2 separate regions of the Homo sapiens genome follow, and region 2 is linked to region 1. A link means that fine-mapping ties the variant in region 1 to the expression of a gene that starts in the linked region. Tissue or cell type: whole blood. Region 1 holds a variant in brackets; the other region holds the start of a gene. All regions are shown on one strand. Distances are between the middles of the regions.

Region 1 (15,319 bases):
CAACCCATTCTGCTCAGTACCAGAGTCCAGGCCCCAGGTCTGGGCTGCTGGGGAACAGGGCCCTGTTTGCAGAAGGCAGCGGGTGGGCCCATGTTCAGCTCCAGGATGCTCCCTGCCCACAGATGGGCACATGCAGTGACACACAGCTAGCACACATGGGCACAGTCCTGCGAGGCACCCATGTCAGTGTCTGTTCTGATGGGCCAAAGCTGTGAACAGTTTTGAACATCATCCTTGGGGGTGTGGAGTGGCAGAGGTCATGCCTGCTGCTGGCAGGGCATAGGCTGGCTCGGTGTCTCTGTCTGTAGCAGGGGCTGGAGCCTCATACTGCACCAGAGTCTCTTGGCCGTTTTTCCCAAAGATAGCCAATTCTGGGCAGAGTCCAACCTGGGTATCTTGGACCCATGTTGTGCCCTGTCTGGTCCTGGCATCCCCTCTGCCCAGCTCCATATCCCATCTCCTCCGGTCAACCCCAGGGGATCCTTGTCTCTTCATAGCAGCACTGTGGGGGTAAAGTCACCCTGCAGGGCCCCAAGACAGGAGTGTTCATGTCCTGAGTGCCTGGTGAAGGTGTTAACAGTGGTCCCTATGATTTGGCAGGTGCCATGCCCACTTTCTCACTTTAGAACTTCAGAAGACAGCACAGAATAGGCATAAGCTCATCTCACCATTGGGAAAAACAGCTCTGGGGAGTTAAGTACCCAAATCACCCACAGAGCCAACATTACAGTCCTGAGAACGAGTGTGCATCTTCTGACTCCCAATCCATTACTCTTGTTGCCCACCCTGGGAGGACTCACTGGAAAGGAAGCCCCACTCTCCATGCTTAGCTTCAGGTTTGGTTTGCAGAGTTGGCAGCTGCAAACAGTTCGATCTCTCTAGTCCCGGCTGAAGAGGAGAAACAGTGCCTGCAAGCTTGGCATTGCACACCTGGGGTTGTGGACAGGATATGACTAAGCACAGAGCTTTCTTCTTTTGAGGCCACGCATGTGGTGCGGAGCGGGACCACCTGCATCCACAAAGCCCGACGCACCTGCTCCTACTTCTGCTTAGCGTGTGAGCAGTGTGGTGACCAGGGTTTCCACCAGGGAGCAGGCCAGGACCAGCTCACAGCACTTTCTAGGTGCTCTCTGGTCCGGGGCTGGGACCCATACAGGGCTTAGTAAAGTTCATAGATGGTAGCTCGGCAGCCCCAGGCCCCAGGTGACACCTCTCCCCTGCCTGCCTTGTACTGCCTGCCTGCAGCACTCCTGGGAATCTTGTATGAAGACAAGGAGAGACAGGACTTCATCTTCACCATCTACCACTGGTGGCAGGCTGTGGCCATCTTCACCGTGTACCTGGGCTCGAGCCTGCACATGAAGGTGAGACTGGGCAGGGTTGGGGGCCCCATGCCCAATGACAGGTACTTCCTTAGCCCCTGCCCTGGCTTCACAGCTTCCTAAACGCCACCCCTTCCCAAGCCAGTCTCTGGGCCAAGCCTCATTCCTGCAGCCCACTGGGTGGCCCTCAACTCAGCAACCCACTTACTGGCCCACCTCCAGCCAGTCTCAGTTTGCCCATCTCTGAGGGGATTTGTGGGTGCATCACAGCCATCCTGTGGGCTGTTTGGTACCCTGTTCTCCAGATGATGGGTCTGTCTCCCTTTATGGCCTGAAGGGGAGCAGGCTCCTCAGGCGCTGCTCCCAAAAGATGGTGGCTCAGTCTAGCAAGTCCCAGTTGCTAAACATTTTTGAAAAATAGAACTAAAGGCCGGGCGCGGTGGCTCCCGCCTGTAATCCCAGCACTTTGGGAGGCCGAGGCGAGTGGATTGTCTGAGGTAGGGAGTTTGAGACCAGCCTGACCTACATGGTGAAACCTCATCTCTACTAAAAATACAAAAATTAGCCGGGCGTGGTGGCAGGCGCCTGTAATCACAGCTACTCGGGAGGCTGAGGCAGGAGAATTGCTTGAACTGGGAGGCGGAGGTTGCAGTTAGCCGAGACGGGGCCTTGGCACTCCATCCAGCCTAAGCAACAAGAGTGAAACTCCGTCTCAAATAAAAATAAAAATAAAAATAAAAATAGAACTAAAAATAGCAGGGAGTGGGCCGGGAACAGTGGCTCATTCCTGTAATCCCAGCATTTTGAGACACTGAGGTGGGGGTATCACCTGAGGTCTGGAGTTCGAGACCAGCCTGGGTAACAGGCTGTGAAACCCTGTCTCTACTAAAAACACAAAAATTAGCTGGGCATGGTGGCGCGTCCCTGTGATCCCAGCTACTCTGGAGGCTGAGGCACGAGAATGGCTTGAACCTGAGAGATGGAGGTTGCAGTGAGCCAAGATCGCGCCACTGCACTTCAGCCTGGAGGACAGAGCGAGACCCTGTCTCCCAAAAAAAAGAAAAAAAGAAAAAAGAAAAGCAGTGAGTGGGCAGGGCATGGTGGCTCATGCCTGTAATCCCAACACTTTGGGAGGCTGACGCAGGAGGATTGCTTGAGGCCAGGAGTTCAAGACCAGCCTGGGCAACATAAGAGACCCTGCCTCTACAAAAAATTTAAAAATTAGCTGGGAGTGGTGGCGCGTGCCTGTAGTTCCAGCTACTTGGGAGACTGAGGTGGGAGGATGGCTTGAGCCTCAAAGATTGAGGCTGAAGTGAGCATGCCACTGCGCTCCAGCAGTGGGTGGGGGGAGGGAGGGAGGGGGAGCGGTGGGGAAACGGAGCGACCGTGTCTCGAAAAAAGAAAATAGCCGGAAGTATGCATACAGATATGTGTGTATGTACTGAGCTATGTTGTAAAATCATTCCTGACTGCGGGTTATAGTCAAAACCCCATGAAAAGCATCACTACAGCCCACGGGTGTGTCAGGGACTCAGTGTTGTGAGCCCTGGGAAGGCAGGGCCTGTGGCCAGCACTTTATCAACACTGGCACATGCACCCTATGAGGCAAAGGGATTTGCATTGTCTCCTTACAGCGTGGGACACTGAGGTCGCCAGGGGCATGGTGACTGTAAGGGACAGTGCTGGATGTGAGCCTCGCCTGCAGGAGGCGGTCCAGGAAGAGTGGGTGGAGGGGCTGGAGAAGTTGAGGGCCGCGTGGCCCGGGAGGCTCCCGGAGGAGGGAAGGGCCTATCTCAGCGAGGGGCATAGGCGGGAAAGGTGTGGGGCGAGGCGGCCGCGGGTCCCTGGCATCCCTCTCCTTACGCCCAGGCTAAGCTGGCGTTGCTGCTGGTGACGCTGGTGGCGGCCACGGTCTCCTACCTGCGGATGGAGCAGAAGCTGCGGCGGGGCGTGGCCCCGCGGCAGCCCCGCATCCCGCGGCCCCAGCACAAGGTGCGCGGTTACCGCTACTTGGAGGAGGACAACTCGGACGAGAGCGACGCGGAGGGCGATCTTGGGGACGGCGAGGAGGCGGAGGCGGAGGCTCCGCCCGCAGGGCCCAGGCCTGGCCCCGAGCCCGCTGGACTCGGCCGCCGGCCCTGCCCGTACGAACAGGCGCAGGGGGCGATGGGCCGGAGGAGCAGTGAGGGGCCGCCTGGTCCCCGGACTCAGCCTCCCTCCTCGCCGGCCTCAGTTTACCACGTCTTAGGTCGGGGGGACCCCCTCCGAGTCCCGCGCTGTCTTCAAAGGCCCCTGTCTCCCCTCCCCCACGTTGGGGACGCCCCTCCCAGAGCCTGGGTCACCTCTGGGCTTCCGCAGCCCCCTCCAAGGCGGAGTGGAGCCTTGGGAACCCCTCGGCCAAGCACAGGGGTTCGAAAATACAGCTGAAACCCCGCGGGCCCCTAGCACGCGCCCCAGCCCCAGAGCAGGGTCAGGGTCTTCTTGCTACCTGGCCCCGCTCCAGATCCCCCCAGCTCTCGGCCGCGGACCTGGGCTGCGTGTGAGCGCGCTTTGCACCTCCTATTCCCAGGGTCCGCCGAGAGCCACGATTTTTTACAGAAAATGAGCAATAAAGAGATTTTGTACTGTCCTGACTGGGGAGTCCCAGGCCGCGGGGGACGGAGCGCCCCTGGGGTGCACGCCTGGCTGGCCCGGCCTCTGGGCGCGGTGGTGGGAGGCCCTGACCTAGGGGGGCCGCGGGGTGTGGGGAGTGCGGAGCACCACTGGGGGCGGGGCGAGGTGTCCGTAGGCCCCGTCCACCAGCCTGTCCTCCCTCCTGAGGCCCCGCCCCCCATAGCTGCCTGCCTTTGCCAATCCCAGCCAGGAGAAGGAAGCGACGGAGCGGCTGGCAGAGACAGAGGAGGGTGTGACCGCGTTGCTGGTCCCCCATGGGTCCTGAGGGCGCGACAGACTCCGGAGGCACACCCTCCAGGGGCCTGTGTAGGCATCCTCGGCCCTCCAGCGACCACCCCCGCGTCGGACAGGGTCCACTTCCGAGCCACGGTGGGGTCACCCTGTGCCCAGTAGGGGCCTTGGAAGTGGTGGCTGGAGGCCAGTTATGCTCGGTTACTACCCTTTCCCGGCTACAGCCTCAGCTGCGATGCCCACGAGAAACAGGCTGGTGGAGGGGCAGACCCCCTACAAGGCCTGAAGGTGCCGTTCCTCCACCCGCTCCTCTTGTGGCCAGAGGAGAGGGACACCCCCGCCATGAAGAGCTCTGAACGATTGGGTGAGGACAAGTGGGGGCCGTGGGAGGGCCATGGAGCCCCCAGCTGCACCCCAGCACGCCCGGGGCTGGCCCACACCATTCCTCACTCCCCACAGCCTCTCTACCCCTGACTTTGGAGAGGCCCTCGTCTGTACCTCCAGGCTCCATGCCTGCCTCAGCATCGCTCTATGGATTCTCCCAGCCCTAAACTGACCCCATCTCTCCTCTCTGCCCTCATGTGAGTTTGGTTCTTGAAGCCTCTAGTGGGCCCTGGGGCCAGACTCTGTGGCCTTGGACAGGGAGTCTCCCATCTGAGCCACAGGTTCCTTCTCTGTTGAGTGTGTGAGGTAACATGTTGGAGCCCTTAGTGTGGCGGCTGCAAGCTCCCCAGGGCCTGTAAGAAACACAAAAGGGTGCGGCGGGAGACTTGACATTTTCTAAATCTGGGAGGGAACGCTGCCTGCCTCACGCTGACCTTCAATGACAAGCAGACTCAGAAGCGGTCCCGAGGTGCCACCATAAGCTGGGTGAAGGCCAGCGCTGTGTGCTTCCAGTTCCCCTTCCGCATCTGTAGACTGAGTGTTCTCTGGAGGTGGCTGGCGACATCCTCCAGGCAGGCTCCAGCAAAACCAGTCGGAGCTGGGCAACCTGACGCTCGGATGATTCACCTCTGAATGGAGGGCAAGGTGATATTTGGAAGGGTGTGGGCCCCTGGGATGCTGGGCGAACGGGGAGCGGGTGCCTGGATTGTGGGCCTACAGCTCTTCCCAGTTCCGAGTCAATTCTAATGTCCATGGTGCCAAGGAACAGAGGCTCTGGTGTTGAGCAGACTTGAAGGTGATCCAGGCACAGGGAGTGGCCACTCAGGGGCTTGGCTCCTGGCTGTGCTCTTCCTATCTGGGCATTTCCCATGAGAAGGCCTCACAGGCCACCTGGCTGCTCCTGGCACACGGAGGATGCCCAGATGCTGACACGTGCCAGACAACACATATGTACACCTGATAGGCCACACACATGTAACATGCAAACACACGTGATGGGTAACACCTGTGACAGACACTACATGACAACACTCGTGCACACATGATGGGAAACACATATCACAGGCTGTGCGACGGGAAACACACATCACAGGCTGTGCAACGGGAAACACAGAGCAGGCAGTGCGACGGGAAACAGCGCAGGCAGTGCGACGGGCCCTGGCAGCAAGCTCAGCAGGCTGGCTCTTTTCGAGCAGGAGAAGAGCTCATTGTAAGGGATGACAGTGGCGTATGTGGCACCTCCCCTGTCCCCATCACCCCCGGATAAGGTGACTGGGTGGAGGTTCTGGACCCCTGAGTGGACGAACAGGTTGTGTCATGGCCTCCGTGTCTGATTGCCACCCTCGCTCCCAAAGCAACTCTGTGATTTTGTCGATCCGCACTGTGGGGATTTTTCTTTTTCTTTTCTTTTTTCTTTTTTTTTGCAACGGAGTTTCACTCTTGTTGCCCAAGCTGGAGTGCAATGGCGTGATCTCAGCTCACTGCAACCTCCATCTCCTGGGTTCAAGTGATTCTCCTACCTCAGCCTCCCGAGTAGCGGGGAATACAGGCGCCCACCACCATGCCAGGCTAATTTTTTTGTATTTTTATTAGAGACAAAGTTTCACCATATTGGCCAAGCTGGTCTCAAACTCCTGACCTCAGGTGATCCCCCTGCCTTGGCCTCCCAAAGTGCTGGGATTACAGACGTGAGCCATCATGCCCAGCTGGGATTTTTCAATTATGTGATTACAAGAATCTCCAGTCCAAGATTTTCCCTATCTTTAAGTTCTCAGTAGCAGGTTAGATAACCTGAGAAATCTCCCTCTTCAAAACACCTAGAAATGCTGGGTAAGAAACAAATGTCATTTTAACTATAGAGCTGAGGCCGGGCAAGGTGGCTCACACCTATAATTCCAGCACTTTGGGAGGCTGAGGCGGGTGGATCACCTGAGGCCAGGAGTTTGAGACCAGCCTGGCCAATGGTGAAACCCCATCTCTACGAAAAATACAAAAATCAGCCAGGAGTGGTGGCAGGCGCTTGTAATCTCAGCTGCTTAGGAGGCTGAAGCAGGAGAATCGCTTGAACCCAGAAGGCAGAAGTTGCAGTGAGCCAAGATCACGCCATTGCACTCCAGCCTGGGCAAAAGAGTGAAACTCCATCTCAAAAAATATATAAATAAAATAAAATAAAATAAAATAAAATAAAATAAATATATAGCTGAGTTCTTCAGAAAATAAGTTAAGTCCCCTAAAGCCAGAAGTGAAGAGGGAAGTGAGAACCAAGGTGGGGACAGAGGAGCTGGTGCTGCAACTGCCTGAGGGCAGGGCTGGGTTGAGCCTTGGAAGCCCTTAGAAGGCAGGGGGTCAGGGTTACAGTCAAGCATGATGAAGTTGGGGCCACAGAAATGCAACACCTTTAGAGAAAGGGACAGAAAAATTTCCACCCAGGGGAACAGAGAAAGGTGAGAAAATTTGAGCTTTAGGTGTTGAACAAGTTTCCCATGAGATCGTTGCGTTTTCAGGCCTCTCTTATATAAATGTGGAACTCCTACAATGAAGTCATGCTACCTGTGTGGTCTAGGAATGCCAGAGTTGAGATATTAGCACTAAAAAGTTGCTTTGGGCCAGGGGTGGTGGCTCACGCCTGTAATCCCGGCACTTC[G/A]GGAGGCTGAGGCAGGTGAATCACCTGAGGTCAGGAGTTCGAGACCAGCCTGGCCAACATGGTGAAACCCCCCTCTCTACTAAAAATACAAAAAATTAGCCATACCTTGTGTGCCTGTAATCCCAGGTACTCAGGAGGCTGAGGCAGGAGAATAGCTTGAACCTGGGAGGCAGAGGTTGCAGTGAGCTGAGATTGTGCCACTGCACTCCAGCCTGGGCAACAAGAGTGAAACTCCGTCTCAAACAAAAAGTTGCCTTGGCTTAGTGGTACCCTGGGGCCCCTGGAAAAGCCAAAGAGAAAACCTCTCTAGGTGGCTCCCTCAAACCTGGCCACCCAGGATTCCCCACATAAAGCCCCTCTGAAGCTCAGCTCACGATCCAAAATTACAGAACACACAGGAAACACATCACCGCGAGAAAAGGCAACAGACATAAAAAAGAGCAGGATTCGACACCCGCTTCAAATACCCGCAGCTAGGAGAGAGAAGCTGTCCAACAGGTATGTGAGATAGGCAGCTTCTATAAGGGGCTGCCAGCGATCTCCCACCCTTGACTCTTCACAATTTTGTGTAATTTCCATACCTTGATTGTGGGCTGGACCTAGTGAGTTTCTTTTAACCAACTGAATTCTTATTTTACTTATTTTATTTTATTTTATTTTATTTTATTTTATTTTATTTTATTTTATTTTATTTTATTTTATTTTATTTTATTTTACTTAGAGATAGAGTTGCACTGTGTTGTCCATGCTAGGCTGAAACTCCTGGCCTTAAGCAGTCTTCCTGCCTCGGCCTCCTAAAATGACAGGATTATAAGCATGAGTCACTGCGCTCAGCAGCCTTTGCATTTATTTATTTTTGAGACTTGCTGTATGGCCCAGGCTGGAGTGCAATGGCACGATCTCGGTTCACTGCAACCTCCACCTCCCAGGTTCAAGCGATTCTCCTGCCTCAGGCTTCCAAGTAGCTGAGATTACAGGCACCTACCATCACGCCTGGCTAATTTTTGTATTTTTAGTAGAGACGGTTTCACCATGTTGGCCAGGCTGGTCTCGAACTCCTGGCCTCAGGTGATCTGCCCACCTTGGACTCCCAAAGTGCTGGGATTACAGGCGTGAGCCACCGATCCTGGCTGACCAACTTAATACTAAACTGGCCTGAGAGATTCTCACTGCCTGGTGTCCACACTCCGCTAATGCCCTCCTGTGAGTGAATGTGATGGGCTACAGTACTTTTGAGCTAATAACATGGGATGCTACCTAAGTGGACCTGAACCAGTCAGGCAAGTCTTTTAAAAGAAAGGGACATGGCAGAGAGGTGCTCTTCTGCAGGCTTGGAGTAGGGCAAGTGGACATGGGGCCACATACAAGGGGGCCTGTGGATGCCGAGAGTGGTCCCCGATGGCAGCTTAAAAGAAAACAGGGACCTCAGTGCCCCAACGTAGGGAACAGCCCCTCTCCCCCACTGGCTCTAAGGACCCCCATCACAGGGGCATGAGGCACCCCCCTCAATGAGGGGAGTAAGAGCCAGCCCCTCTCCCCCGCTGGTTTTTAGGATCCGAGGTGGACTCACAGCCTGTTTACCATATTGTGAGTAATATCATCTCCCCTCTGGAAATTATGAACTATTTCACAGATGGGTGTACACCCGTCTGTATTGGGAGTAATATCATCCTCTTCCTCCCTGAATATTAAGAACAGTACCACACGGGTGTTTCTACTCCCTGCGATATTGGGTGTCATATCCTCCTCTCCCACGTGGCAATTAGAGACAGTATCAGTGGGGGCGTGTCCACCTTCTGTGATATTTAAAGTAATATCATCCTCTTCCCTCCAGGATCATGGGAACAATATGCCTGGGGGGTGTACACTTTCTGCGATATATGTAGTCATATCACCCCCTCCGCCTTGGAATATTATGAAGGACCATCTCACAAGGGGGTGTACACTGCCTGCGATATTGGGAGTAATATCAACCTCTCGGCCTCTGAATATTAGGAAGAATATCACAGGGTGGGTGTACAACTCCTGCTCTATTATGGGGAGTAATATCATCCCCTCCCTTTCAGGATATTAATAACAATATCACAGGGTGGGTGAACACAGCCTGTGATGCTGGAATTATTATCATCCTCTCCCCGTAGGGTTATTAGGAACAATATCACAGAAGAGGTGTGCACTCCCTCCGATATTGGGAGTAATATCATATGCTTCTTCCGTGAATATTAGGAGCAATATCACCGAGTGGCTGTACATTCATTGCTATGTTGGCAGTCATGTCATACTCCACCCGCTGGATATTAGGATCAGTGTCACAGGGTGAGTGTGCACCTGCTGAGATATTAAAACTAATATCATGCTCTCCATCCCTGGATATTAGGAACAATATCACAGGTAGGTGTACACCCCCTGCGGTATTAGGAGTAATAACATTATGAATTATTAAACATCAGTCTCATTAATGATTATCAATGGTAATATTAATTAATAGTATAACGTTATTAGTCATTAATGATTATTTTAAATATATGGTTACGCATGATTAAAATTAATTCTTACTATTCATGTCATTTTTAATAATATTTGTTATTAATATTAATGTTAATCATTGTCTTATTACCAACATCACTTACAATGGATTAAATAACACTAATTACTGATATCGTTATTTTATTATTAATAGTGATATTGCTATTAATTATTAATTGTAATCATTAATATTTTTAATCCGCATTAAGTTTTACTGTCTCCACTGTAGTTATTAATATCGATGATTACTATTAATTGTTATTCTATTTATTAATATTAATAATTAATAAAACTGTTCCCGATATCCGTAGGGGAGAGGATATGACTCCCAATATCGCAGAAAATGTACACCCCTCTATGATGTTACTCCTAATAGCCAGGGGGTAGAGGATGACATTATGGAAAATATCGCAGTGGGTGTACATCCCTTCGGTCATCTTGTTCCTAATATCCTGGGTGGGAGCGGATGTTACGACTCCCAAAATCGCAGTGGGCGGAGACCTCCCCCGTGATACTGTCCCTAAAATCCAAAGGTGGAGAGGATGATATTTCTTCCAGTTTCGCCGGGGGTGCACAACACCCCTGTGATATTGATCCTCAAATCCAGGGGGTGTGAGGATGATGTTAGTCTGAATATTGAAGGAGATGTACACTCCCTAGGGATATAGTTCCTAATATCCAGGGACGGAGAGGATGATGTCACTCCCAATATAGCAGGGGGTGTACACCCTTCTGTGACATTGTTCTTAATAGGCAGCGGGGGAGAGGAAGATATCACCCCCAATATCGCAGGGGGTGTACACCCTCTTGTGACATTGTTCCTTCTATCCTGGGAGGGAGAGGAAGATACTAGCGGCAATGTCTCAGGGGCTGTACACACCCACTGTGATATTGTTCCGAAAATCCGGAGGGGGAGAAAATGATGTTACTTCCAACATCGCAGGGGGTGTACAAGCTCCTGTGATATTGTTTCTTATGTTCAGGGAGAGAGGATGATATTACTCCCAATATCGCAGGGGTTGTACACACCCCCCGCGATGCGGGGAGTGAGAGCCAGCCCCTCTACCCCCCACCCCGGCTCTTAGGACCCCCATCGCAGGGGGGTGAGGCACCCCCCGCGATGCAGGGAGTGAAAGCCAGCCCCCCTCCCCCCCCGTCTCTCATGATCCCCATCGCAGGGGGGTGAGGCTCACCCCGCTATGCGGGGAGTAAGAGCCAGCCCCTCTTCCCCCCCTGGTTTTTAGGATCCGCGGTGGACTCACAGCCTGTTTACCATATTGTGAGTAATATCATCTTCCCTCTGGAAATTATGAACTACTTCACAGACGGGTGTACACCCATCTGTATTGGGAGTAATATCATCCTCTTCCTCCCTGAATATTAAGAACAGTATCACACGGGTGTGTCTACTCCCTGCGATATTGCGTGTCATATCCTCCTCTACCATGTTGCAATTAGAGACAATATCAGTGGGGGCGTGTCCACCTTCTGTGATATTTAAAGTAATATCATCCTCTTCCCTCCAGGATCATGGGAACAATATCCCTGGGGGGTGTACACTTTCTGCGATACAAGTAGTCACATCACCACCTCCGCCTTGGAATATTATGAAGGGACCATCTCACAAGGGGGTGTACAATGCCTGCGATATTGGGAGTAATATCAACCTCTCAGCCTCTGAATATTAGGAAGAATATCACAGGGTGGGTGTACAACTCCTGCTCTATTATGAGGAGTAATATCTATCTATTATTGGGAGTAATATCCCCTCCCTTTCAGGGTATTAATAACAATATCACAGGGTGGGTAAACACAGCCTGCCATGCTGGAATTATTATCATCCTCTCCCCGTCGGGTTATTAGGAACAATATCACAGAAGAGGTGTACACTCCCTGCGATATTGGGAGTAATATCATACGCTTCTTCCGTGAATATTAGGAGCAATATCACCGGGTGGCTGTACATTCATTGCTGTGTTGGCAGTCATGTCATACTCCACCCGCTGGATATTGGGATCAGTGTCACAGGGTGAGTGTACACCTACTGTGATATTAAAACTAATATCATGCTCTCCATCCCTGGATATTAGGAACAATATCACAGGTAGGTGTACAACCCCTGCGGTATTAGGAGTAAGAACATTCTGAATTATTAAACATCAGTCTCATTAATGATTATCAATGGTAATATTAATTAATAGTGTAACGTTATTAGTCATTAATCATTATTTTAAAAACATGGTTATGCATGATTAAAATTAATTCTTACTATTAATGTCATTTCAAATAATATTAGTTATTAGTATTAATATTAATCATTGTTTTATTACCAACATCACTTATGATGGATTTAAGTAAGACTAATTACTGATATCATTATTTTGTTATTAATAGTGATATGGTTATTAATTATTAATCATAATCATTAATATTTTTAATCAGCATTAAATTTTACTGTCTCCACTGTAGTTATTAATATCGATGATTACTATTAATTATTATATTTATTAATATTAATAATTAATAAAACTGTTCCCGATATCCGTAGGTGAGAGGATATGACTCCCAATACCACAGAAAGTGTACACCCCTCTATGATGTTACTCCTAATAGCCAGGGGGTAGAGGATGACATTATGGAAGATATCGCAGTGGGTGTACATCCCTTCGGTCATCTTGTTCCTAATATCCTGGGTGGGAGCGGATGATATGACTCCCAATATCGCAGGGGGCGGAGACCTCCCCCGTGATACTGTCCCTAAAATCCAAAGGTGAAGAGGATGATATTTCTTCCAATTTCGGCGGGGGTGCAAACCACCCCTGTGATATTGATCCTAACATCCAGGCGGCAAGAGGATGATATTAGTCTGAATATTGCAGGAGGTGTCCACTCCCTAGGGATATTTTTCCTAATATCCAGGGACGGAGAGGATGATATCACTCCCAATATAGCAGGGGATGTACACCCCTTGTGTGACATTGCTCCTAAAGGGCAGCGGGGGAGAGGAAGATATTACAGCCAATATCGCACGGGGTATACAACCCCTTGTGACAGTCTTCCTTCTATCCTGGGAGGGAGAGGGAGATACTAGCGGCAATGTCGCAGGGGCTGTACACACCCACTGTGATATTGTTCCGAATATCCCTAGGGGGAGAAAATGATGTTACTTCCAATATCGCAGGGGGTGTACATGCTCCTGTGATATTGTTTCTTATATTCAGGGGGAGAGGATGATATTACTCCCAATATCGCAGGGGTTGTACACACCTCCTGCGATACCGGGAGTAAGAGCCAGCCCCTCCCCCTCCCTGGCTCTAAGGAGCCCCGTCGCAGGGCGGTGAGGCCCCCCCCCCCGGCGGTACGGGGAGTAAGAGCCAGCCCCTATCTCCCCCTGGCTCTTAGGACCCCCATCGCAATGGGGTGAGGCCCCCGCGATGCGGGGAGTCATATCACCCCCCTCTGGATATGACGATTCACGTCGCAGGGGGGCGGGCGCCCACCGCGATGAGGGGAGTCATATCACCCCCCTCTCCCCCCCTGGATATGATGATCCACATCGCAGGGGGGCGGGCGCCCCCCGCGATGCGGGGAGTCATATCACCCCCATCTCCCCCCCTGGATATGACGATCCACGGTGGTCACACAGCGTGTTCACCTTATTGTCAATAATATCTTCTCCGCCTCTGGAAATTACCAACTATGTCACAGACGGGTGCACATTCTCTGCATTCTTTGGAGTAATAGCATCGTCTTTCCCCTTGATATTAAGAACAATATCACAGGAGTGTTTTTACCCCCAGGGGCATTCCGTGTAGTATCATCCCTCCCACGTTGAAATTAGGAACAATATCACTGGGGGTGTGTCCACCTCGTGCGATATTGAAAGTAACATCATCCTCTTCTCTCTTGGATCATGGGAACCATATCACTGGGGTTGTGTACACTTTCTGCGGTATTGGGAGTAAGATCATCCTCTCCGCCTTGGAATATTAAGGACCATATCACAGTGGGGCTGTACACACCCTGTGCTATTAAGAAGAATATTATCCTCCCCTGCCCTGCACATTGGAAAAAATATCACAGAGTGAGTGTACACCTCCTGCGATGGGCGGGTGATATCATCTTCTCTTCTTCTGGATAATAGCAACAATAGTACACGGGTTTGTACACTTTCTGTGATATTGGGAGTAATAGCAACCTCTCCACCTTTGAATATTAAGAACAATATCACAGACTGGATGTACGACCCCTGCGATTTTGGGAGTCATATCAGCTTCTTCTCTCCATGGATATTAGGAATAATATCCCAGGATGGGTGTACACCTCCTGCTGTATGGGGAGTCATATCGTCCTCTCCCTTCCTGGCTGCTAGGAACAATATCAGAGGATGGGTGTACACAGCCTGCGATATTGCGAGTAATATCACCCTCTCCCCCTCCGGATATTAGGAACAATGTCACAGAAGGGGTGTATACTTCCTGAGATATTGGGAGTAATAGCATTCTCTTCTTCCGGGAATATTAGGAGGAATATCACCGGGTGGATGCACACCCACTGCTATCTTGGGAGTAACGTCATATGCCATCCCCTGGAGATGATATTCGGATCAATATCACCGGGTGGGTGTACACCTACTGCGATATTCAATGTCATATCATGCTCTCTCCCTCCCTGGACATTAGGAACAATATCACAGGTGGGGGTACACCCACTGAGGTATTAGAGATAATATTCATATTAATTCTTCCTCATTTATTATTTACATGAATATGTATTACCAATATAAATATTAATATAATAAATCATTGCTAATAGTGTTCTGATTATTAATATTAATATTAATTATTAGGAGCTAATATGACAGTTTTCTAATGAATAAGATCAATATCACTCTTTAATACCAGGCGTCATTAATCATTAATATTAATCATTTATTGTTATTGTGAGTATAACACTGTAATAGGAATTTTCATTATTATCGGTATTGATTTTAAGAATTATATGATCAGTTATTAATATTGATAATTATTAGTATCAATTAATAATTGAGATTATTAATTGCGGTAAGTCACATTGCGCCATTCCACCCCTCCCTCGGCAGCTCGTTTATGACCCAAAACGGGGATCCAAATGCCCCTGAGAGAGCAGCGGTATACTGTGATAGAGGAGGATGGTCACGTGGTGGAGAAGCATGTTTTTATGTACCAGCCCTTCACCTCGGCCGACCTTCTCAACTGGGAAAACAATACCCAGTCCTAGAGAGAAAAGCCGCAAGCCCTAATTGATTTGCTCCAAACTGTTTTCCAGACCCACAACCCCACCTGGGCTGATCGCCACCGGTTGCTCATATTCCTCTTTAAGAGAGATGAAAGGTGAAAGGCGGAGAGGGCTCCACGTAGCAACTAAGTGGTTAGAGGAACATGCACCAGCTGATTATCAAAACCCCCAAGAGTGTGGAAGGACCCAGTCACCAGGAACCCACTTCCAGTTGGACCCACATGAAAGAGAGGATATGCAAAGGCTAAACCGAGACAGGGAA
Region 2 (15,319 bases), 170 kb before region 1:
GTTAAAAAAAAGTATTACAGACACAGTCTGATGCAAATCTTTGACTTGGCTAGCCTCAAGGCTTTTAAAAGTCTAAGATTCCTTATTAAAAAGTTCCAACAAAGCCAATTTTAAGAAGCCTATATGGTCAATAAATATTCTTACTGCACTTTATGCAAATAATCAGACCAGGTACGATAAGACTAAAACTTATTTTGCACACAAATTTGTCCTACTATGATTTGTCTTTGATAAAATGATGGACTAGAGAGAGAAAATTTATGTTCCAAAAGAAAACTATGACATATGCTATTAGATTCCAGCCCTGATCATTGTTTCCGAGTTTTTATTATTTGCCTATAATTTGGGCTGAATCCTGAATTATTTCCTGGCTCCAAGTGTTCCCTAGTTAACCCAGATATAACATATTTTAAAAAACTTGTTTTTTCCTGTCAGGAATGAGATGTATTTTTGAAGGACTACTTAAACTAGCAATTACAATTCGATTATTATGATTATAGAATCTCGGGATTTCTCTTCCTTCTTGTCAAGGTCTTTACCTGATGTTTGTCTCATTAAAAAAAAAAAAAAAGAAATCAGACTGATTACACTCTACTCAAGACTGAAGACATGTACTTTAACCTGTCTCTGTTACCAGTAAACCAAAGCCTTAAATTTCAGAATCCGTCAAGGACCCTGTGTTGTCCCTGGATCAAGCACCCATGGGCTTATGAATGTGTTGACCACTGGCATATGAGAGGTAATTGTCTATTAGGTTATGTGGCTCTTCCTCTTTCTATTTATAACTCCAATGTTTCTGAACACTGAAGTAGTTCATCGAAATTATTTTCCAGGATTAGACAAACCGTACCTGCAAACCAAGGAGATGAATTTTGGCCTATGTTTGGCAGAAGTCTCTTGCAATGGTGGGGAGTAACTCTCATGAACGTATAATTAGAAATCTGTCAACCACTCTAGGTAACTTAGCAAATGAACTAGCTGAAGCCGTAGCTACCAAATAAAGATCTTCAGACTCTTTAGCCAGGATAGTCGTGGATGACGGAATAACTTTAGGCTACATAGTGGTGAAACAGGGAGAAACTCATATGGAAGCTAGCTAACACATCATGTTGTGTTTAGATCCATACATCTTCTGAAGTTGAAACACATGTAAAAAAATAAGACGATATGGGAATTAATTATGGCAAATCTAGGGAAGAGGCTGAAAGAGCTGTAACACAAGCAGGGCTGAGACATGCCCCTTGCTTGCCACATTGTGGGCAAAGAGAAGGAAAGAAGAGCTGTGGCCCTTTGGGGAGCCCAGACCTGGAGCTCCCCGAGCCAGGGCTGTGATTCCCTCTTTAGGGCCCTGTGGTTCCTGGTATCTCCAAGCTTCTGGGTGCCACTGTGTTCCCAGTGTGCCAGCTGTGGAAGCTGCTTGCGGTGCCCGTGGTCCAGCCACAGCCTTGTAGAGAGCTGGTGCCCGTGTTGGCACCTGGAGCCACCTGCCCCACTGCAGCAGCCAGCAAGTCTGACTGCACAGTGGCCAGACCCCATGCTCACTCACACACCCCTTGCCACTCCATGCAGTCTCCCTTGGCAGGCGTGGGATCCAACCTGGTAGCATGAGCTGAGCACAGCCTGCCAGGCTGAGTGGGTGGGGCCCAGCAAAACGCAGGCAAAGGTGCCACCAGCCATAGAGGTTTCTGTCCAGAAAAGTAACACTCCAAAGATCCCGTAACACCGCTACTCTTCCCAGCCTCTGGAAGCTCTCAGTCTACTCTCTATCTTGATGAGTTCAATTGTTTTAATTTTTAGCTCCCACAAATGAGTGAGAACGTGCAAAGTCTGTCTTTCTGTGCCTGGCTCATTGTACTTAACATAATATCCTTTAGTTCCATCCATGTTGTTGCAAATGACAGAATCTTATTCTTTTTCATGGCCGAAGAGTACTCCATTGTGTATATGCACCACATTTTCTTTATCCCTTCATTTGTTGATGCACACTTAGGTTGCTTCCAAATCTTGGCTATTATGAATAATGCTGAAATAAATATGGGAATGCAGATATCTCTTTGATATACTAATTTTCCCTCTCTTGGGTATATACCCAGCAGTGGGATTGCTGGATCATATGATAGTTCTATTTTTAATTTTTTGAGGGACCTCCGTATTGTTCTCCATAGTGAATGTACTAATTTACATTCCCACCAACAGAGTAAGAGTGTTCCCTTTTCCCCACGTTCTTGCAAGCATTTATTGCCTGTCTTTTGCATAAAAGCCATTTTAATGGGGTAAGATGATATCTTATTGTAGTTTTGATTTCAATTTCTCTGATGATCAATGATATTGAGCATCTTTTCATATCCCTATTTGACATTTATATATCTTCTTTTTTGTTTTTGCTCATTTTTTGAGACAGGGTCTCAGTCTGTCACCCAGGCTGGAGTGCAGTGGTATGATCATGGCTTAATGTAGTGTTGACTGCCAGGGTTCAAGCAATCCTCCCACCTCAGCCTCCTGAGTAGCTGGGACCACAGGCATGCATCACCATGCCCAGGTAGTTTTTAAAATTATTTGCTATGTTGTTCAGTTTGGTCTTGAACTCCTGGGCTCAAGTGGTCCACCTGTCTTGGCTCCCCAAAGTGCTGGAATTACAGGTGTGAGCCACTGTGCCTGACCTGTGTGCCTTCTTTTGAGAAATGTCTGTTCAGATCTTTTGCCCATTTAAATAATTGGATTGTTAGTTTTTTTCTTATGAGTTGTTTGAGCTCCTTATATATTCTGGTTATTAATCCCTTGTCAGATATATAGTTTGCAAATATTTTCTTCCATTCTGTGGATTGTCTTTTCACTTTGCCCATTGTTTTCTTTACTATGGAGAAACTTTTGAACTTGATGTGATACCACTTGTTCATTTTTGCTTTGGTTGCCTGAGCTTTTGGAGTATTACTCAAGAAATCTGTGCCCAGACCAATTTCCTGGAGAGTTTCCCTAATGTTTTCTTTCAGCAGTTTCGTGTCTTTGATTTAAGTCTTTAACCCATTTGGATTTGATTTTTGTATATAGTGCAAGAGAGGGTTCTAGTTTAATTATTCTGCCAATGACTTTGGGAGGCCGAGGTGGGCGGATCATGAGGGCAGGAGATTGAGACCATCCTGGCTAACACGGTGAAACTCCGTCTCTACTAAAAATACAAAAAAAAAAAATTTAGCCAGGCATGGTGGCAGGCGCCTGTACTCCCAGCTACTTGGGAGGCTGAGGAGGAGAATGGTGTGAACCCAGGAGGTGGAGCTTGCAGTGAGCCCAGATCACGCCACTGCACTCCAGCCTGAGCAACAGAGCTAGACTCCATCTCAAAAAAAAAAAAAAAAAAAAAAAAATTCTGCCAATGAATATCTAGTTTTCCCAGCACAATTTGTTGAAGAGACTGTCCTCTCCCCCATGTATATTCTTGGCACCTTCATTGAAAATGAGTTAATTGTAAATGTATGGATTTATTTCTGGGTTCTCTATTCTGTTCCATTGGTCTATGTGTCTGTTTTATGCCAGTACCATGCTGTTTTGTTTACAATTGCTCTGTAGTATAATTTAAAGTCAGGTGATGTGATTCTTCCAGTTTTGTTCTTTTTGCTCAGGATGGCTTTCGGTATTCTGGGTCTTTTATGGTTTCATATAAATTTTAGGATTTTTTTTCTATTTCTGTAAAGAGTGTTATTGGTATTTCAATAGGGATTGCATTGAATCTGTAGATTGCTTTGTGAAGTATAGGTATTTTAACAATATTTACTCTTCCAATCAATGAACATGGACAATCTTTCCATTTTTTTTGGTGTCCTCTTTAATTTTTTTGCATCAGTGTTTTATAGTTTTCATTGTAGAGATCTTTCACTTATTCTGTTATGTTTGTTCCCAGATATTTTATTTTATTTGTAGCTATTGTAAATGGGATTACATTCTTGATTTTCTTCTTTAGATTGTTCATTTTTGTCATTTAGAAATGCTACCGACTCTTGTAGTTTGATTTTGTATCCTGTGACTCTGAATTTGTTGATCAGTTCTAATAGTTTTTTGGTGGAGTCCTTAGGTTTTTCCAAATATAAGATCAAATCATCTGCAAACAAGAAAACAGTAATAATTTTACTTCTTTCCAATTTGGATCCCTTTTATTGTTTTTCTCTTGTCTGAATTGCTCTAGCTAGGACTTCCAGTACTGTGTGTTGGAAGTGGACATTCTTGTCTTGTTCCAGATCTTAGAAGAAAGGCTTTCAGCTTTTCCCTGTTCAGGATGATACTGGCTGTGGGTCTGTTGCATATGGTTTTTATTGTGTTGTGGTATGTTCCTTCTATATCTAGTTTTTTTTTGAGGGTTTCTTTTTATCACAGGGATGTTGGATTTTATTAAATGCTTTTCAGCATCAATTGAAATTATCATATGGTTTTTGTCCTTCATTCTGTTGATATGATGTGTCACATTGATTGATTTGCATATGTTGAACCATGTTGGCATCCTCGGGATAAATCCCACTTAGACATGATGAATGGTCTTTTTCATAGGATGAGTTTGGAAATACTACAGCCTTCTCTGTTTTTTGGAATAGTTTAAGTAGGATTGATAGTAATTCTGCCTTCAATGTTTGGTAAAATTAATCAGTGAAGCCAGTGAAGCCATTGGATCCAGGCTTTTCTTTACTAGGAGATGTTTTATTATGGCTTCAATTTCATTTATCCATTTCTTCTAGGTTTGTTGTTTGGTTGTTTTTTTGTTTTCTTTTTTTTGAGATGGAGTCTTGCTCTGTCACCCAGGCTGGAGCGTGGTACAATCTCAGGTCACTGCAACCTCTGCCTCCCAGGTTCAAGTGATTTTCCTGCCTCAGCCTCTGGAGTAGCTGGGAGTACAGGTGCATGACACCATGCCTGGCTAATTTTTGTATTTTTAGTAGAGATGGGGTTTCACCATGTTGGCCAGGCTGGTCTTGAACTCCTGACCTCAGGTGATCACCTTCCTTGGCCTCCCAAAGTGGTGGGATTACAGGCATGAGCCACGGTGCCTGGCCATTTCTTCCAGGTTTTTCAATTTATTGGAATATAGTCAGTCATAATAGTTTCTAATGATTCTTTGAATTTCCGCAGTATCAGTTGTAGTATCTCCTTTTTAATCTCTGGTTTTATGTATTTGAGTCTTCTCTCTTTTTTCTTAGTCTGGTTAAATGTTTGTTGATTTTGTTGGTCTTTTAAAAAATATTAACTTTTCATTTCATTGATATTTTATATTTTTAAATTTCAATTTCATTTATTTCTGCTCTGATCTTTGCTATGTTTCCTTCTACTAATTTTGGTTTTGGTTTGCTCTTGCTTTTCCAATTATTTAAGATGCATTATTAGGTTGTTTATTTGAAGCTTTTCTACTTTTTTTGATGCAGGTGCTTTTTGCTATAAATTTACCTCTTAGTACTGTAGTAGTGTTTTTACTGTATCCCATAGGTTTTTTTTTTTTTTTTTTGAGACGGAGTATCGCTCTGTTTCCCAGGCTGGAGTGCAGTGACGCGATCTCGGCTCACTGCAAGCTCCGCCTCCCGGGTTCACGCCATTCTCCCGCCTCAGCCTCCTGAGTAGCTGGGACCAAAGGCGCCCGCCATCACGCACGGTTAATTTTTGTTTTTTGTATTTTTAGTAGAGACGGGGTTTCACTCTGTTAGCCAGGATGGTCTCGATCTCCTGACCTCGCGATCCGCCCGCCTCAGCCTCCCAAAGTGCTGGGATTACAGGCATGAGCCACTGCGCCCGGCCTGTACCCCATAGGTTTTGGTTTGACTTTAAACTTTTTCTTTTCTCGAAAACTCAGTGTCGTGGTACCGGCTTCTAGTGCTTTGGGCAGTGAGACCCTTTTACTTGATAACAGTGGTAGCTGGGACAACTTGGCAACGTAAATAAATAAACGGCATCTAGATTGGAAAGGAAGAAGTACAGTTATCTTTATGTACAGATGACATGATCTTGCATTTAGAAAATCGTAAGAAATTTACTAAAAAGTATTAGGACTCATGAACAAATTTAAGAATGTAACACTATATAAGATTGATATACAAAAATAACTGTATTTCTTTACCAAGAAATCAAGAATCCAAAAATGGAATTACAAAAATAAATCTTGTTACAATAGAATTAAAGCTGGGGAAGCTTAAACTTGAACACTAAAAACTGCAATACATGGTTAGCGTCGGAGACACCCAGGTATCATCCCTGAGCCTTCTCTCCTTGGCTCTGAGGACTTCACCTTCACGTGGTGAGGAAAGGGGTTGCAGTCTTGGCTTTTACGTTATATTAGGTGGGTTCAGGTTGAGGTATCTGCAATTCAAATGAGTATTACAATCTCTACTTTTATGGATAAGAGACTGAGGCCCACCAAGAGAGGGAATGACAGTCCATATCCTGGAAGGCAAATTGTCAGGCACTGATTTCCGCTATGTAACCCCTGCCAATCATCGTGTATTTAAAGGATCCCCAGATACCATACCAATAGGTGTTCAAGAGAGAGGCCTGTAATCTAGGCGTCTGAGAAAGCAAGGCTAGAGATTCCGATATTGGAGACAACAGGGCTCTGGGAAGATTAAGGTTGAGTTTTCTGGATCTGCAGAATAGAGTCACTGAGGAGCAATTGCAAGATCCGAGGAGATGAAAGAACAAGTCAGGGCATGCTTAGGAAAAGAGAAAACCAGGGATAGGTTTTAGGCAAGAGTCACACTGAGGAAGGGCAGGTTCTTGGCGTCGCTCAGGAAGGAATCCAAAAGCAAGCCTGTGGTGGAAGAAAGCAGCTCTACGGAGGCACTGGCGGTGTTACAGCCCTGCGTCCACTCCTGCAGGGCAGGGAGCCCTCCGTGGGTTGTGCTCCCAGAGTAGCAGCCTGGGGGTGGCTTGCAGTCATTTTTATAATTCACTTTTAATGGCATGCTAATTAAGGGGCGGGTTATTCAGAAATAGCTAGAAATGGGCAGTAACTTCCAGCTGTTTCCATGGCAAGGGGTGGGGACTTCCCGTGCTGCCGTGGCATTGGCAAACTGTCACGGCACTGGTGGAAGCGTCTTCTGGTGATCTGAGGCGTGAGGTGCTTTCGCTGCCTCTCCCAGTCTCCTGCGTGCCTCTTACCTGAAAGCCCTTCACACCCTCATCTGCCCACCTACAAACTTCACTGCCCTTTCACCCCAACCCCGTTTCACACGCACTCCCACATCAACCCTGAGCATTCAAGCTTGCGTTTCCCTGTTAGGAACCTCGGTGGTGGCCGGAGCTCTGAGAAACCCCTAGGCAGAAATCCTTGCCTAGTTTGTGGCAGAAATCAGGGAAGGAAAGGCAAAGTTCAGGTCTTTCTCACAATAAATAAATAAAGATAGCTAGATTTGATTGATTGGTGGATGGATGAAACGTGGGAGTTTATGGGCAAATATTTATCAGACACTGGAAGTGTAAGTTGTCACAAAGATTATGGAGTGCACCTGTCTTATGACCCTGTTATTTTATCCCAGTATATGCACTAGAGCATTTTTTGTAACTGTGTAAATTGAAGGCTTATAAATTAGTTTAGTGAGAGAAAAGATAACGGATTGGAAGAGAATTACCATATTCATTAGTTGTGTTTTTAAAATTTTAAAGTAAAATAGAGACATGATTTTTTTCATGCTTTCGAATGCATTTATAAAAAATAGACTTGAGGGCTGGGCGCAGTGGCTCACGCCTGTAATCCCAGCACTTTGGGAGGCCGAGGAGGGCGGATCACGAGGTCAAGAGTTCGAGACCAGCCTGACCAACATGGTGAAACCCCGTCTCTACTAAAAATACAAAAATTAGGTGAGTGTGGTGGCGCGCACCTGTAATCCCAGCTACTCAGGAGGCTGAGGCAGGAGAATCGCTTGAACCCGGGAAGCGGAGGTTGCAGTGAGCCGAGATCGCACCATTGCTCTCCAGCCTGGGTGACAGAGTGAGACTCCGTCTCAAAAAAAAAAAAAAAAAAAAAGTTACTCATTAATAGCATAGACCAATTGGCCTCTATTGAAATTTCTCCATTATTTTCACAATGTGCCAGGCTGTGAAACCAGGATTTAATAAAGAACCAGAATGCCACATCTGTGTCACCTGGGTAGGGACCAGTCCTGATCCATTAAGTCCGGGTCTCTGGGTAACTGGACTCACTGCTGGGCAAAACAGAATGTCCGGCTTGGGTTCCTAACCGGGGACCGCAGAGCCTCATGGGAAATGTAGTGTCACCTTCCAATGATGTTACCATCAAGGACCTTGGGAACCAGCTTTTCTCTCTGCGCATGCGCCGCCCCGCCCACTCCGCCATTTTCCTCCGGAAGTGCGGCACCCAGAGGCGGTCTTGTAGCTGGGCCAGCCTGGGGCTTGGTTCTATGTCCCTGCGGGTCGGTGCGAGGGCGAAGAGGAACCCGTGGGCCCGGGGGATCCCGGGGGGCCGGACCAGTGTTCCCCAGTTGTGGGAGCAGACGCGTGGGCGCATCGCGGGCGGGCAGGGCCTGAAGTGCAGGTGCAGGCCGCGGACCCTGGCGGGGGCTGGGAGGACAGGCGTGGGGTCCCGGCAGTGAAGCGGGTTCTAGAGGCGCAGGAGCGGGTAGGCGAGGCCGGTGGCCCTGGGCCCGGAGTCTGCAGGCCGCGCTCCTGTCCTGCCGCTGAGGGAGCCGGTTACCAACCCGCATGACGCTCAGTTTGCCCATCTGTCCCAGTGCGAACACACAGTTCTCGGGAGACGTTCCCCATTCCCAGAGGAGTAGTGCGAAACGCGTGCGCCTCGAGTCTTAAACTGGGCGTTTGTATTAGTTGGGTTTCCCGGTGTCTCTTTAGCAAGTGAAGTTTCTGGTTCCCTCCTTCACTGTGTGACCTGCCTAGTCCTCCTGGGTTGCGTTTACAGAAGTTTATACGAGACCTAGTTTCCAGGGAAGAACTCACTGATGCCGCGAGGGAGATGGGGTACTGGATGATGGTCTTCAGCCTTAAGGGTACTTCAGTCTTAACCGTGTGTTATAAGGTTTGAAAGGGAGGGTTCCCTATGAATAAGAAGCGCACTTGAAAGAACAGCCCTCTGGTCTAACCTCCCACTGGTGCTTCAGAGGAGGATAAAAGGTCACAGGTGAAGATCCCAGTTTTCCTCGCTCGGGAAATATTAATTCTACTCCCTAGAATGCACAAGATTTGCAAAGACTAGGTGACAGTGGTAGGTTTGGACGAACTTTCAGAAGGTTGAGGTGAATTCGGCTGAGAAGAACAGGCAAGGACCTAGGAAATATTCCTTATTTGAAGGGGCCTGAAAGTGTGGTCTGGGGTACAGGAGTGACCTGTCATACCTGAGAAGATTAAAATACTCTCCAAACACAGTCCCATTCCTTCAACCTTTCCTCGTTGTTTCCAGCGTTTGAGATATATTAAACCTAGTCCATCACCAAATTTAGCTTTAGCATTAGATTGTGAAGTTCTATCGATTGTATTTGATTTGTAATTTAAGACTTTCTCCCCCTACGTAATTTTGTTAAAAACATATTGAATTCTGTTCACTTAGGTGTAACAGTTAATACTTGCTGTTTAAGGAACTAATTAAACCTTACTGGCTTATAAAAAACAACCACCATTTTATTTGTTTGAAGTTCTGTGGATCTGCATTTTGGTGTGGTGGGTTCAGCTGGGTAGTTGATATATTTATGTTGCCTGGATCACAAAAGAGGCCTTGGTCACATGGTGGGTTGACTGAGCCTGGTTGGTTTAAGATAGTTTCCTTCACAATCTGGCGGTTTGTGGTGACTCTTGGCTAGGCCCTGTGTCTCCACCAGGGTAGCTCCAGACCTCCTCACAATATGACTGTGTCCAAAAAGGCAAGAACCAATGGATATTTGCATCACATTTTCCATTGTCCATTCACTGGACAAGTCAGATGGAAAAGCCCAATTTATTGTCAGAGCATAATATGAGGGCTTGGATACAGGGAAAGGTGTTATTGGGAAACATGAGTAGAATGGTGTACTGCAGGAAATACATATTATGTACATTTAAAAAAAAGTAATTGTAGGCCAAAATTGCTGGGTTGCAAGATGCACTTTCCATGATGTTCAGGTATAGAAAAGCAAGATGTACTGTCATGGGAACACTCATATGAAGTTATTTGTGGAATCCACATATTAATAGGAAAATAGTTAATACAGCCCAGTATATTTCTATAACATTTATTTTAGTGAACTTATAATGTTTCTTTGTATTAAATTATTAGATTGTATCTTTAGGTAATATTGTTGCTAAATTAGTAGGTAATACATATTTTTATTCAAAATAAATTGTGCATCTAATGTCTACCAATTAATGTACTTGTAGATGTATCTTATCTTGAGTCTTTGCTGCCCCTAATGAGGCTTGAAGGACTCTTCTCCCATGGGGAAGTTTTTCTTTTTCAGGAGGGAGGAGGGCTTTTCCAGGTAATGTGTCTAGAGTGTTGGGCAGAAGAATCTGGGACCACACCACACCAGTTCTCTCCTTAATTCACGTCATTTGCCTTCTCTCTCAGCTATGTTTCCAGTGTTCTCTGGCTGTTTCCAAGAGCTACAAGAAAAGAATAAATCTCTGGTGAGTTGTTTATTTGTTCTTCACTTTGTTTTACACTGTATTTTCTGAGTTTATGGGTGTCTGTGAATTAAAAAAGAAAAGTGGAAATAAGTAAAACTCAGGTTGAAGGAAATATACATAAATAAGATAAAGCTGACCTGTAGATATAGACAGGTTGTAAGAGCTTAGAGTTGTCTAAGTTGAGTGCAAATTTTCCTCTGATCTTTCTGATGCAGTGACAAAAAAGTCAGTCATGGTTGTTACGTGATTGGAATGGAACCCGCGAAGAGAGCATGCTGTGTTCTTGTGGGACAGGAAAGCTTGTGTGCACCAAGTCTGAACCACCACCTTCGGTGGTGACATAGGTTATGTGCTGGAACATATTTCACACCAGCCTGGCAGTAAATACTTGTAGTGTTGTGCAGTGGAAACGGTCATCTTCTGCTAAAGCACGGCATGTTGTGCAGTGGAAACGGTCGTCATCCGCTAAAGCACGGCGTGTTGTGCAGTGGAAATGGTCATCTGCCGCTAAAGCACGGTGTGTTGTGCAGTGGAAACGGTCATCGTCCGCTAAAGCACGGCATGTTGTGCAGTGGAAATGGTCATCTGCTGCTAAAGCATAGTGTGTTGTGTAGTGGAAATGGTCATCTGCCGCTAAAGCACAGTGTGTTGTGCAGTGGAAATGGTCATCTGCCGCTAAAGCACAGCTTCCATCATAAGGTATGCTCCTTGCTGTGGTGGAACATATTTCACACCAGCCTGGCAGTAAACACTTGTAGTGTTGTGCAGTGGAAACAGTCATCTTCCACTAAAGCACGGCCTGTTGTGCAGTGGAAATGGGCATCTGCTGCCAAAGCACAGCTTCCATTGTAAGGTATGCTCCTTGCTCAAAGAGTGTGGTCCCAAACAGCTTTTGGGAGGTGCTCCTTGATTCATGGATGAAACCTGGAACATCTTGAGAACTGAGTTAACCACAGGTCCTTAAATAACTCTCCACACCTTTATCTTAGTTTATCTCTACATGCAGGGTGTGCAGCAGCCTGTTCAAAGTTATATTTTCTGGGAAATACTTCCAGTGTTTATTTGCACTTTAGCCCACTCTGTGTAGTCCTAACTTATTTCTTCTAAACTCACCATTAACCTAAATAATAGTCAAATTTAGGGGGACTGTGATTGCCTTACTCGAGTCTTCTACCATAGTTGAAACTGTCGTATCCGAGCGAGTTAGAGAGAAACGCCACACTTTGAGACGAGTTCAGGAGTCCTTTATTAGCCAGCGACTGAGAGATGGCTAACGCACGAAATTCTCTCGGCCCCGGATAAGGGGCTAGCTTTTCTTTTATACTTTGGTTTAGAGAGGGGAGGGGGGATTCTAGCTGCAGCAACCTTACAGAAGAAAAAACAGACAAAAAAGTTAAAACGACAGATGGTTACAGGAAAACAAACTGTTCCAGGTGCAGGGGCTTTAAATTCACCACAAAGTGATAGGTGAGGGGGCTCTGGGCGTTAGCTGCCGGACAAATGTGCGGGCTTTATGATACTATCTCTGAGTAAATTGCTGGGAACTGCAGACATCACTTGCCTCAGCGCTTTATCAGTTAATTGCAGTCTTTGATATGTTGAAAGTCAGCTTGCACAAGTTAAAGTCCTTGAGGAAAGGGAGTGGGTAAGGAGCCCTTGATGTCTTATAAATGAAGGAGCCAAATGGAGTTTGTCCGGTTTTCTCAGCTAAGGGAGAGTCTATTCATATTAAAAACAAGGTTAGGTATCTAAGGACGAGTCTATTCATGTTAACACAACTTTGGGTATTACAAAATGTCTGTTCATGATCTGGAAATTCTTCTGTGTTAGTTCTGTTAAAAGAAAAACTTTAAAGGAGTTTAGTTGAGCAATAAACGATTCATGAATCGGAGAGTCCCCAGAAACACAGCAGATTCACAGAGACTCCAGCACAGTCATTTGGTGGAAGAAGATTTATAGACAAAAGGGAAGTGGCATACCGAAATCAGAAGTGAGGTACAGAAACAACTCAGCATTTGCCTTGTTTGAACACAGTTTGAACACTTGGCAGTGCCTGAGTGGTTGAAGTTTGGCCACTGGGATTGGCCAAGACGCAGCTGTTGTTCCAGGTGCATACTCTCAAGTTAGGTTTTCATTCTTGTCTACCTATTAAGGTAGGTTGCAGTTCATCCACAAGGACTCATATATAGAATTATGGAGTCCTTCTCAGGCCATACTTAGTTCACTTTAACAATTCCTTCCCTTTGGTTATTTTCTCAATTTTGAGAGATTGGCCAAAACTTCAGTCACTGGTGTCACTATTACCATTGCAAATGTACTTACTTGCTTTAGAAACCCACTGGGAAATAGACCAGTGAGTTTTGAAAAGGTGGACCAAGGACTTGAGTAGAAGGTACCTTCTTATGCTGGAACGTCCTGTTTACAGGAGAAAAACAAAACCTGGTTTGTTCTAGGATTTATGTGTTTCCTTAAAGTCTTAGTTTGATTATGTTACATTTAGCATGAGTAACTCCATTTTGGTTTGGTTTGGTCTGTTGGGACCTATTGCATGAGCTTAGTTTAAAACAATGGCCTCGCATAATTTTGCTTAAAAAATTCCTCCTTTTGGCTGGGCGTGGTGGCTCACACCTGTAATCCCAGCACTTTGGGAGGCCGAGGTGGGTGGATCACAAGGTCAGGAGATTGAGACCATCCTGGCTAATACGGTGAAACCCCGTCTCTACTAAAAATACAAAAATTAGCCGAGCGTGGTGGTGGGCACCTGTAGTCCCAGCTACTTGGGAGGCTGAGGCAGAATGGCCTGAACCCGGGAGGCGGAACTTGCAATGAGCCAAGATCTTGCCACTGCACTCCACTCTGGGGGACAGAGCAAGACTCTATCTCAGAAAAAAAATAATTCCTCCTTTTTAGTCAAGTTCTCACTTAGTTGAGAGTGTGACCAAAATGTAGGGCCTTAGCACTACTGTTAGTTACCATTGTTTTAGGTTTCCGGTTTAGCACATCACTCCCATTGTTTTGGGTTCCAGTTTTAGCACGTGACTCCCATTTTTTGGGTTTCTGGGTTTAGCACGTCACTCCCATTGTTTTGGGTTCCGGTTTTAGCACGTCACTCCCATTGTTTTGGGTTCCAGTTTTAGCACGTCAGCTCCATTGTTTTGGGTTCCAGTTTTAGCACGTCACTCCCATTGTTTTGGGTTTCTGGCTTAGCACGTCACTCCCATTGTTTTGGGTTTCTGGCTTAGCACGTCACTCCCATTGCTTTGGGTTCTGGTTTAGCACGTCTCTCCCATTGTTTTGGGTTCTGGTTTTAGCAAGTCACTCCCATTGTTTTGGGTTCCTGTTTAGCACATCTCTCCCATTGTTTTGGGTTCCAGTTTTAGCACATCACTCCCGTTGTTTTGGGTTTCTGGTTTAGCAGGACACTCCCATTGTTTTGGGTTCCGGTTTTAGCACATCACTCCCATTGTTTTGGGTTTCTGGTTTAGCACGACACTCCCATGGTTTTGGGTTCCGGTTTTAGCACATCACTCCCATTGTTTTGGGTTTCTGGTTTAGCACGACACTCCCATGGTTTTGGGTTCCGGTTTTAGCACGTCACTCCCATTGCTTTGGATCCTGGTTTAGCACGACTCTCCCATTGTTTTGGGTTCTGGTTTTAGCACGTCACTCCCATTGTTTTGGGTTCCTGTTTAGCACATCTCTCCCAGTGTTTTGGGTTGCGGTTTTAGCACGTCACTCCCGTTGTTTTGGGTTTCTGGTTTAGCAGGACACTCCCATTGTTTTGGGTTCTGGTTTTTGCACGTCACTCCCATTGTTTTGGGTTTCTAGTTTAGCACATCACTCCCTTTGTTTTGGGTTCCGGTTTTAGCACATCACTCCCATTGTTTTGGGTTCCGGTTTTAGCACATCACTCCCATTGTTTTGGGTTTCTGGTTTAGCACATCACTCCCATTGTTTTGGGTTCCAGTTTTAGCACGTCACTCCCATTGTTTTAGGTTTCTGGTTTTAGCAGATCACTCCCATTGTTTTGGGTTCCGGTTTTAGCACATCACTCCCATTATTTTGGGTTTCTGGTTTTAGCAGATCACTCCCATTGTTTTGGGTTCCAGTTTTAGCACATCACTCCCATTGTTTTGGGTTCCGGTTTTCGCACGTCACTCCCATTGTTTTGTGTTCTGGTTTTAGCACGTCAATCCCATTGTTTTGGGTTCCTAGTTTAGCAGGTCACTCCCATTGTTTTGGGTTCCGGTTTTTGCGCATCACTCCCATTGTTTTGGGTTCCGGTTTTAGCACCTCACTCCCATTGTTTTGGGTTCCGGTTTTAGCACAGCACTCCCATTGTTTTGGGTTCCGGTTTTAGCACCTCACTCCCATTGTTTTGGGTTCCGGTTTTAGCACAGCACTCCCATTGTTTTGGGTTCCGGTTTTTGCGCATCACTCCCATTGTTTTGGGTTCCGGTTTTAGCACCTCACTCCCATTATTTTGGGTTCCGGTTTTAGCATATCACTCCCATTGTTTTGGGTTTCTGGTTTAGCATGACACTCCCATTGTTTTGGTTTACGGGTTTTGCACATCACTCACATTGTTTTGGGTTCCGGTTTTAGCACGTCACTCCCATTGTTTTGGGTTTTTGGTTTAGCACGTCACTCCCATTGTTTTGGGTTCTGGTTTTAGCAAGTCACTCCCATTGTTTTTGGTTTCTGGTTTTGGCAGGTCACTCCC

Evidence for each region.
Region 2: it holds the start of ZNF717, and the variant in region 1 is fine-mapped to the expression of ZNF717 in whole blood (TOPMed, PIP 0.98).

What each region holds. Positions count from the first base shown.
Region 1 is chr3:75,607,672-75,622,990 of GRCh38, reverse strand. It overlaps the pseudogene UNC93B3. Among named protein-coding and RNA genes, the nearest start is that of MIR1324, 15 kb to the left of the region's middle. RefSeq lists an enhancer at 2,607-3,214. The variant G/A (reference allele first, on the strand shown) is at 7,255.
Region 2 is chr3:75,778,583-75,793,901 of GRCh38, reverse strand. It overlaps ZNF717 (zinc finger protein 717), which reads left to right and starts at 8,353. Exons shown (of 5, transcript NM_001290208.3): 1 at 8,353-8,518; 2 at 10,538-10,596. The coding sequence starts at 10,540. RefSeq lists a silencer at 733-933 and an enhancer at 8,091-8,240.